Regions from separate parts of the Homo sapiens genome. Here region 2 is linked to region 1. A link means that fine-mapping ties the variant in region 1 to the expression of a gene that starts in the linked region. Tissue or cell type: cerebellar hemisphere. Region 1 holds a variant in brackets; the other region holds the start of a gene. All regions are shown on one strand. Distances are between the middles of the regions.

What was found. PIP is the estimated chance that this variant, and not a neighbour inherited with it, causes the effect. A credible set is the group of variants that fine-mapping cannot tell apart.
Region 2: it holds the start of SMIM22, and the variant in region 1 is the best candidate, but not a certain one, in a credible set for the expression of SMIM22 in cerebellar hemisphere (GTEx, PIP 0.73).

Annotation. Positions count from the first base shown.
Region 1 is chr16:4,906,527-4,910,723 of GRCh38, forward strand. All of the region lies in intron 2 of PPL (periplakin), which reads right to left. All of the region lies in intron 1 of LOC124903637 (a long non-coding RNA gene), which reads left to right. Among named protein-coding and RNA genes, the nearest start is that of PPL, 29 kb to the right of the region's middle. The variant A/C (reference allele first, on the strand shown) is at 2,434.
Region 2 is chr16:4,793,808-4,798,004 of GRCh38, forward strand. SMIM22 (small integral membrane protein 22) reads left to right here and starts at 1,562. Exons shown (of 4, transcript NM_001253794.2): 1 at 1,562-1,642; 2 at 1,908-2,051; 3 at 2,141-2,241; 4 at 2,383-2,684. The coding sequence starts at 1,928. The coding sequence ends at 2,424. ROGDI (rogdi atypical leucine zipper) reads right to left here. Exons shown (of 11, transcript NM_024589.3): 9 at 4,131-4,180; 10 at 3,907-4,033; 11 at 3,161-3,694. The coding sequence ends at 3,653.

The DNA of each region.
Region 1 (4,197 bases):
CTTGGAGTAGAATTTTATTCACTCCATTATCACCAGCTTCCCTGAGCTGCAGATCAAAGATTAATTTTGCAAAAGGAGGAAGTCCATTAATCATTGCCTAATTCGTGAAGGTGCCCGGTGGGAATGCAAGTTCTCTCAAAACACTGGCTGAGAGAGAAAGAGAACATCTAGCTGAGGGAGGCTAGTGTTCGAAAGTTCAAAGTCGGGCAGAACTGATCGATGGTGAGAGAGATCAGCATAGGGTTGACCCCTGAGGGATATCAACTAGGGAGATGGCCCGGGAGCTTTCTAGACAGTTACCCATCTTGCCACAGACAGTGGTTATCTGGGTACCTATTGATGCAAAAATTCACCCAGGTGAAGTCTGCGAATGTAGACACTTCTCTAGAGTTTATATAAGTTATACCTTGATAAAAAAGTTTTTTAAAGTCACAGGGGCCAGGTGCAGTGGCTCACGCCTATAATCCCAGCACTCTGCGAGGCCCAGGCGGGAGGATTGCTTGAGCTCAGGAGTTGGAGACCAGCCCGGGCAATATAGTGAGACCCTATCTCTAAAAAAAAAAAAAAAAAAAAAAAAATACAAAAATGAGCCAGGCATAGTAGCATGCGCCTGTAGTCCCAGCTACTTGGGAGGTTGAGGTGGGAGGATTGCTTGAGCCCAGGAGGTTGAGGCTTCAGTGAGTCGTGATTGCGCCACTGCACTCCAGCCTGGGTGACAGAGCAAGACCCTGTCTCAATAAAAAATAAAAATAAAAAATTATAGGGACTGATATATCTAATCTCACACACACACACACACACACACACACACACACACACACACACACACGGACAGATACATGATAAAGCCAATTCAGCAGACGTTCCTTGTAGGATCAGGTGGTGGGATATGGGTGTTCGCTGTACGGTTTTCTGCATGTTTAGCATTTGAATAAATGTGTGATGCAGTGTATGATTCTGTTTATGTGAAATATCCAGAATAAATAAATCCACAGAGAGAAAGCAGATTAGTTGCTGCCAGGGGGAAAGGGGAGGTGGGGAGTAACTGTTAAGGGTGTGGGGTTTGGCTCTGGGGTAAGGGAAATGTTTGGGAACTAGATCGAGGAGATGGTTGTGTAACATTGTGAATGTATGAAATGCCACTGACTTGTACACATTACATGGTTAATTTTATGTTATGTGAATCTCCCCTCAATTAAAAAAAATGGAAAATTCAACAGAACTGGGAAATGAAATAAATAGTAGTATCTTTAGCAAAAAGAACATAAGAAAAAGATTGTGTGATCCATGTAGTCTTCAAAGCCTAGCTTCTTTTTTCAAGTGGGTTCAGTTGAAGTTAAAAAAATAGGCCGGGTGCAGTGGCTCACACCTGTAATCCCAGCACTTTGGGAGGCCGAGGTGGGCAGATCACAAGGTCAGGAGTTTGAGACCAGCCTGGCCAATGTGATGAAACCCCATCTCTACTGAAAATAAATAAATAAATAAATTAGCTGGGCGTGGTGGTGCCTGCCTGTGGTCCCAGCTACTTGGGAGGCTGAGGCAGAAGAATCACTTGAACCCGGGAGGTGGAGGTTGCAGTGAGCCGAGATAGCACCACTGCACTCCAGCCTGGACAACAGAGTGAGAGACTGTCTCCAAAAAAAAAAAAAAAAAAAGAAAGAAAGAAAGAAAAAATTGTTCAGGCCAAGCACACAGTGGCTCATGCCTGTAAATCCCAGCACTTTGGGAAGCTGAGGCAGGAGGATGGCTTGAGGCCAGGAGTTCAAGACCAGCCTGGACAACATAGCAAGGACCTCTGTCTCTGCAAAAAAATAAAATAAAAATGGTTCAAAATTACCTATTTTGAGTCAATACTTCAGGGAAATAAAATGAGAAGGTTAAACCCTCTTCCTTCTTTCTCTCTCTCTCTCTCTCTCTCTCACACACATACACAAAGGTCAAACAGATATACACCAATATGTTAATAGTCAGTAGATACCTCTGGTGGTGGAATTCTACATGACTGACTTTATTGATTGATTGATTGATTGAGGCAGGGTGTCCCTCTGCTGCCCAGGCTGGAGTGCAGTGGTGTCATCTCTGCTCACTGCAGCCTCAACCTTCCGGGCTTAAGCGAGCCTCCCACCTCAGCCTCCCAAGGAGCTGGGATTACAGGCACACACACCACCACACCTGGCAAATTTTTCATATTTTTTGTAGAGACGAGGTTTCACCATGTTGCTCAGGCTTGTCTGAAACTCCTGGGCTCAGGTGATCTGCCTGCCTAGGCCTCCCAAAGTGCTGAGATTACAGGCGCGAGCCACCGCACCCGGCTCATGATTTTAATTCACTTTGTTATGCTTGTTTATCCATCGTGAAATGTGTGTGATGAACACATATTATTTTTGTTATGAGGAAAAAAGAGACACACCCCCAAAAGATGTTTTCCATTTA[A/C]GAAGGAAAGAAATCCACCACCACAGGGGGCCTCAGATGGCAGAGGATGTAACTGCAAATGACAAGGGGAGCTGATGGGAGGGAACAGGTGTGGGGTGGCCAGGCAGAGGCCAGGGAGGCAGGAGGTGGAGGCCCAGGGGGGCATGGAGGCGGGGGCCCCAGGCAGGAGGCCAGGGCAAGGCCCACTCCTGGGGCCCCTGCAGGGGATAGCTGGTGGCAGAGAACAGAGTCTCCACTTATCTGCCCCCTACACCCCCGTGGACTGTGCCCACCCCAGCCCACCTACCCGCTTGGGTCTCTTGGCTGCTGTGGACAGGCCTTCAGAGGGTGGGCAACTGGGCCATCAGGAGCAGCCAAGGGGGTTGGATACCTATGGCTGGGCCTGGGGACAGCAGCTTGGCCGGGTAGACCTTGACCTCCCTCCTGACCTCCCCACCCTCAGCCTCCCACTCCTCTGGTCCCACCTTTTTTTTTTTTTTTTTTTTTTGAGACAGTCTTACTCTGTTGCCCAGGCTGGAGCGCAGTGGCACGATCTTGGCTCACTGCAACCTCCGCCTCCCGGGTTCAAGCGATTCTCCTGCCTCAGCCTCCTGAGTAGCTGGGATTATAGGTGTGCACCACCACGCCCAGCTAATTGTTGTATTTTTAGTAGAGATGAGGTTTCACCACATTGGCCAGTCTGGTCTCAAACTCCCGACCTCAAGTGATCTACCCACCTCGGCCTCCCAAAGTACTGGGATTACGGCCGTGTGAGCCATTACGCACCTGGCCTGGTCCCACTTCTTAGTCGCCCCTGCATAGGGATGCCAGATGAAATACAGATCACCACTTACACTTGATTTTCAGATAAACAATAAATAATGTTTTAGCATAAGCCTTTCCCTAATAACACATGGGCTTTCCTGCTACTAAAACATGATTTGTGTTCTGAAATTCAAATGTAACTGGGCATCTCATATTTTATTTGCTAAATCTGGTAACTCCACCTGCAGGCCGATGCTGGCACCATCTCTGTCACTGACTCATCATCCCAGCCCCTTCTAAACCTCAGTTGCTCCAGGGTACAAAACAGGCATCAACCCAATCGCACCGGGCTGGCGCTGGTGGAAGGTTTAAAGAGAAGGTGACCATTCCAGCGGCTCGTGAGTCCCTCAGGGTACAGAGGCTTCATGCCGTTGAGTCCACTGGGCAGTTGTTATCCCCATGTTACAGAAAGGGAAACTGAGGCACAGATAGGGGAAAGTGATTTGCCCAGCTATTTTATCTCTCTTCTCCAAAAAAGGTGGAGAAAGACCTGCACCCTGAGTGCTGGCAGCAGTAGGATGAGCAGTGAGAATGATATTGACGATAATAGCCCTGTCCTATACCTGCATAATCTCATTTAATCTTTACAACCACCCCGCCAAATGGGAACCATCACTCCTGCCTGCTTAGAGAGAATCTCGTTCATGGGGAGGTGGGATGGCTCACTTGTCCAAGGTCACCCAGCAAGGACAAGGCTGGGCTGTTTCCATAGAGCCTGACCCCATGGCACTCCTCCAGGCAGGAGACGCTTTCCACAGGGCCCAGGAAGAGGGAGGAACTTAGTATCCGGGAGGTACTAGTATTAACGACAATGGCCAGGTTCCTCTCACAGAGCAGGGCTTCCTGACCTTGGCACCCCTGCCCTACAGTGCACGGTAGGGTGTTCAGCAGCATCCCTGTCTCCCCTCCCCAACTGGACGCCAGGAGGACCTTCCTTCCAAGCAGTGACAACCAAAATGT
Region 2 (4,197 bases), 110 kb before region 1:
GCTCTGTCACCCACGCTAGAGTGCAGTGGTGCCATCTTGGCTCACTGCAGCCTCTGCCTCCTGGGTTCAAGCGATTCTCCTGCCTTGGCCTCCCGATTAGCTGGGATTACAGGAGTATGCCACCGCACCCAGCCAATTTATTTTTTTTGAGATAGTCTTGCTCTGTCACCCAGGCGGGTGTGCGGTGACATGATCTTGGCTCACTACAGGCTCCGCCTCCTGGGTTCAAGCGATTCTCCTGCCTCAGCCTCCCAAGTAGCTGGGATTACAGGTGCCCGCCACCACAGCGGGGTAATTTTTGTATTATTATTATTTTTTGAGATGGAGTCTTGCTCTGTCACCCAGGCTGGAGTGCAGTGGCGAGATCTCGGCTCACTGCAATCTCTGCCTCCAGGGTTCAAGCAATTCTCCTGCCTCAGCCTCCTGAGTAGTTGGGACTATAGGCGCGTGCCACCATGGCCGGCTAATTTTTTGTATTTTTAGTAGAGATGGGGTTTTACCGTGTTACCCAGGATGGTCTTGATCTCCTGACCTTGTGATCCGCCTGCCTCGGCCTCCCAAAGTGCTGGGATTACAGGCATGAGCCACCACACCCGACCAATTTTTGTATTTTTATCTTTTTTTTTTTTTGAGATGGAGTTTTGCTCTTGTTGCCCAGGCTGGAGTGCAATGGCGTGATCTCGGCTCACCACAACCTCTGCCTCCCGGGTTCAAGTGATTCTCCTGCCTCAGCCTCCCTAGTAGCTGGGATTACAGGAATGTGCCACCACGCCTGGCTAATTTTGTATTTTTAGTAGAGACATGGTTTCTCCACGTTGGTCAGTCAGGCTGGTCTCAAACTTCTGGCCTCAGCTGACCCGCCTCTGCCTCCCAAAGTGCTGGGATTACAGGCGTGAGCCACTGCGCCCGGCCCAATTTTTGTATTTTTAGTAGAGGTGGGGTTTCGCCATGTTGGCCAGGACGGTCTCAAGCTCCTGATCTAAGTAAGTGATCTGCCCAACTTGGCCTTCCAAAGTGGTGGGATTACAGGTGTGAGCCACCAGGCCAGGCCAAATATATTAAGTATTATAAGTAATCCAGAGATGATTTAAAGTATAGAGTATATGCACAGGTTATATGCAAATACTGCCTCATTTTATATCAGGGAGTTTATAGCATCTGTGGATTTTGGTACCCACGGAGGTGCTGGAACCAATCGTTGAGGATTCCAAGGACAACTCTATGATGCAGGCACACCTGTCCTAGCTGCTCAAGGGTCGTGGGATGCAGGTAGGTTTTCTCCCCCTTCCCCCTCCCTCCCACCCACCTTCTCTCCCATCTCTCTCTCTTTCATTCACGAAGTCAGCAGTGGCCAAGCACACAGGTGTTCCCAGCTGCATATCTGGGATACTGAGGAAAGGTAAGAAGTCTCAGGAGTGAAGAAGCCACAGGCCGGCGTCTTCCTCCCTGGGCCTCCAGCAGTGGGGAGCCAGGGAGCGCACCTGCTGGGCCTGGGCCCTCTCCCCTGGGCTGGGCGGCCTCTGCTGGCCCTGGGGAGGGCGGGGCTGGTTGCCAAGGCCTCAGGTGGTGTGGAGCCGGAAGCAGGAAGCAGCCTGTGCTCCCCAGGACCTGCCTGGTTGGGGGAATTGGAGGCTTCTAGGAGGTAGGTGGGGGCCTGGGGGCTGGGCTGCCAGGGGGAGAGAGAGGGGAGATGACAGTGGCTGGGGAGAAGGTTGTCAGGGTAAGGACCACAGGGCTGGGCAAGGAGAGAAGCTGGGCCTGGGGCCGAGGGAGAAGTGGAGTGGGAGGGGGTGGGGAAGCTGGCGCTGGGCCAGGAGCGGGCAGTGGCTGGGCTGTGGGAAGCCTGGATGTGGTCCCCGCTGAGCTGAGCCCAGGATCCTGATGCAGCCTCTGGGGGACCGGGGCAGGTGGCACGGTGCACGCCAAGATGGCTGTGTCCACAGAGGAGCTGGAGGCCACGGTTCAGGAAGTCCTGGGGAGACTGAAGAGCCACCAGTTTTTCCAGTCCACATGGGACACTGTTGCCTTCATTGTTTTCCTCACCTTCATGGGTAAGTGTGGCTGTGGCCTCTGGGTCCTCCCAGCCCCCTGCCCTGGGCTCCAGGTTGGGGCCACACCTGGACGCCTGTCCTGTCCCCAGGCACCGTGCTGCTCCTGCTGCTGCTGGTCGTCGCCCACTGCTGCTGCTGCAGCTCCCCCGGGCCCCGCAGGGAAAGCCCCAGGAAGGTGAGCCCCTGGAAGGTGAGCCCTGCCGGCCTCTGGGACCTGCACGGAACTGTACTGGGGGTGGAGGCGGAAGGTGAGGGGAGTGGCGGGAAGGGTGCTCATCCCCCTAGGGAACAACGAGCGAACCTGCTTGGTCCCGCTGTGCTTCTCGTGCAGGAAAGACCCAAGGGAGTGGATAACTTGGCCCTGGAACCCTGACCCTGTGTCTCCTGCCCGGTGGCAGTAACAAAGCCTTCTGTCTGCCCAGAGCCTGAGTCTGCAGTGTCTTCCAGTCCCCGTCTGGGTGGGTGACGCGGGACTCGCCGCCCCACTCAGGTGGCCACCTGGCCTCTCCAAGCCTTCAGTCAGCACGACTGTGCCAGGTCATCCTCAGTCACCTAGCTGGGAGGGGAGCTGGTCTCAGGCCGGGCGCGGTGGCTCACACCTATAATCCCAGCACTTTGGGAGGCCGAGGTGGGCGGATCACGAGGTCAGGAGATCGAGAACATCCTGGTTAACGTGGTGAATCCCCGTCTCTACTAAAAATACAAAAAATTAGCCGGGCGTGGTGGCGGGCACCTGTAGTCCCAGCTACTCGGGAGGCTGAGGCAGGAGAATCACTTGAACCCGGGAGGCGGAGCCTGCAGTGAGCCGAGATCGCGCCACTGCACTCCAGCTTGGGCGATAGAGCGAGACTCCGTCTCAAAAAAAAAAAAAAAGACTCGGTGGCCCAAAGTCCCAGGTAGAGCTCTTGTCGCCACCCCATGGGCTTCTTGGCAGCCCGAGGGTCCCCTCTCGACAGTAGGTTCTGTGCCCTGCCCTGGCATGGCACAGGGAACGCGGAAGCCAGGCTCCGGGAATAGGGGAGACGGCTGGCTCCTGAAGCTCATGGCCACTGACTACCAGAGACCCCCTGCCTGGGTTCCCACTCAGACAGACAGACAGGGGCTCCAGGTGGAGTCTGATGATCTTTATTTCTTAGACAGCCCTGGACTGGGGCTATGAAACACAGTCACCAGCACTATACTCACTCCTAGGGTGGCTCTGTCTGTGGCGTTCCTCACCATCCCCGGGACTCATAGCTCAGTGCCACCCCCCGACACCATGCCCTCCAGGGGGAGGGGACAGCGAAGGGGAGAGGAGGGAGAGCCCTGCGCCTGGCCCTGTCCTGAGTCCAAAGATTCCCATGGTGATCAGAGGGCGGTGTTGGGAATGTGGGACACCCTTGGCCCCGCCTCCCTGACCTCCCCACTACCCCACCAAACCAGCCTTCCTTCCTCCTGGCACTTCCAGTGTCCATTCCCGGCAGTGCAAATGTGTTAGGTGGGGTAGGGGGTGGGATAGGGAGATAAATAGCAGCCTGGCGTTGGCACTGGCTGGTGCTCTGTGGTGGGTATGAGTAGGGGACGGGGCCGCCTTCCTGGAGACAAGCTCCTGGGTGCTGTGATCAGAAGGGTCTGTAGCTCCAGTAGCTGGAGAACACGGAGATCTGCAAGGGGAGAGGGTGCTGTAGGTTGCTGAAGGGGGATGGGGTAGCCCAGGGGAGATGTCAAGGTCACCCAAGGACAATATGTCAGGACAGGGCATTGCTGCCTCGCAGTGCTGTGGGGTACACCAGACCCCAAGGTTGGGGCGCTCTGAGGGTGTGGCAAGGACCCTTAGAAGTCCTTCCCCTAATGAAGGCGCTCGGCCCGGGCCCACCTTGTCCTTGAGCTGCTGGCAGAGCTGCAGGGAGACGGTGAAGTAGACCAGGGCGTCGTTGAGCCAGGGGATCACGCACTCCACTTTGTGCACGTGGCTCACCTCCAGGCGCTGAGAGCCCCACTCGCTGTGGGCAGTGAGAGGGTCCCTGAGGAGGGTCCCGGCCCTCCAGGTGTGGAGGGATGGGGTGGGCGTGCCTGGACCCCCCGCCCCTGCCTACTTACAACATGGCCCCAGGGCTATGCAGCACCGCGCCCCCAGCTGGGCGGAAGTTCTAGGGAGAACAGCACC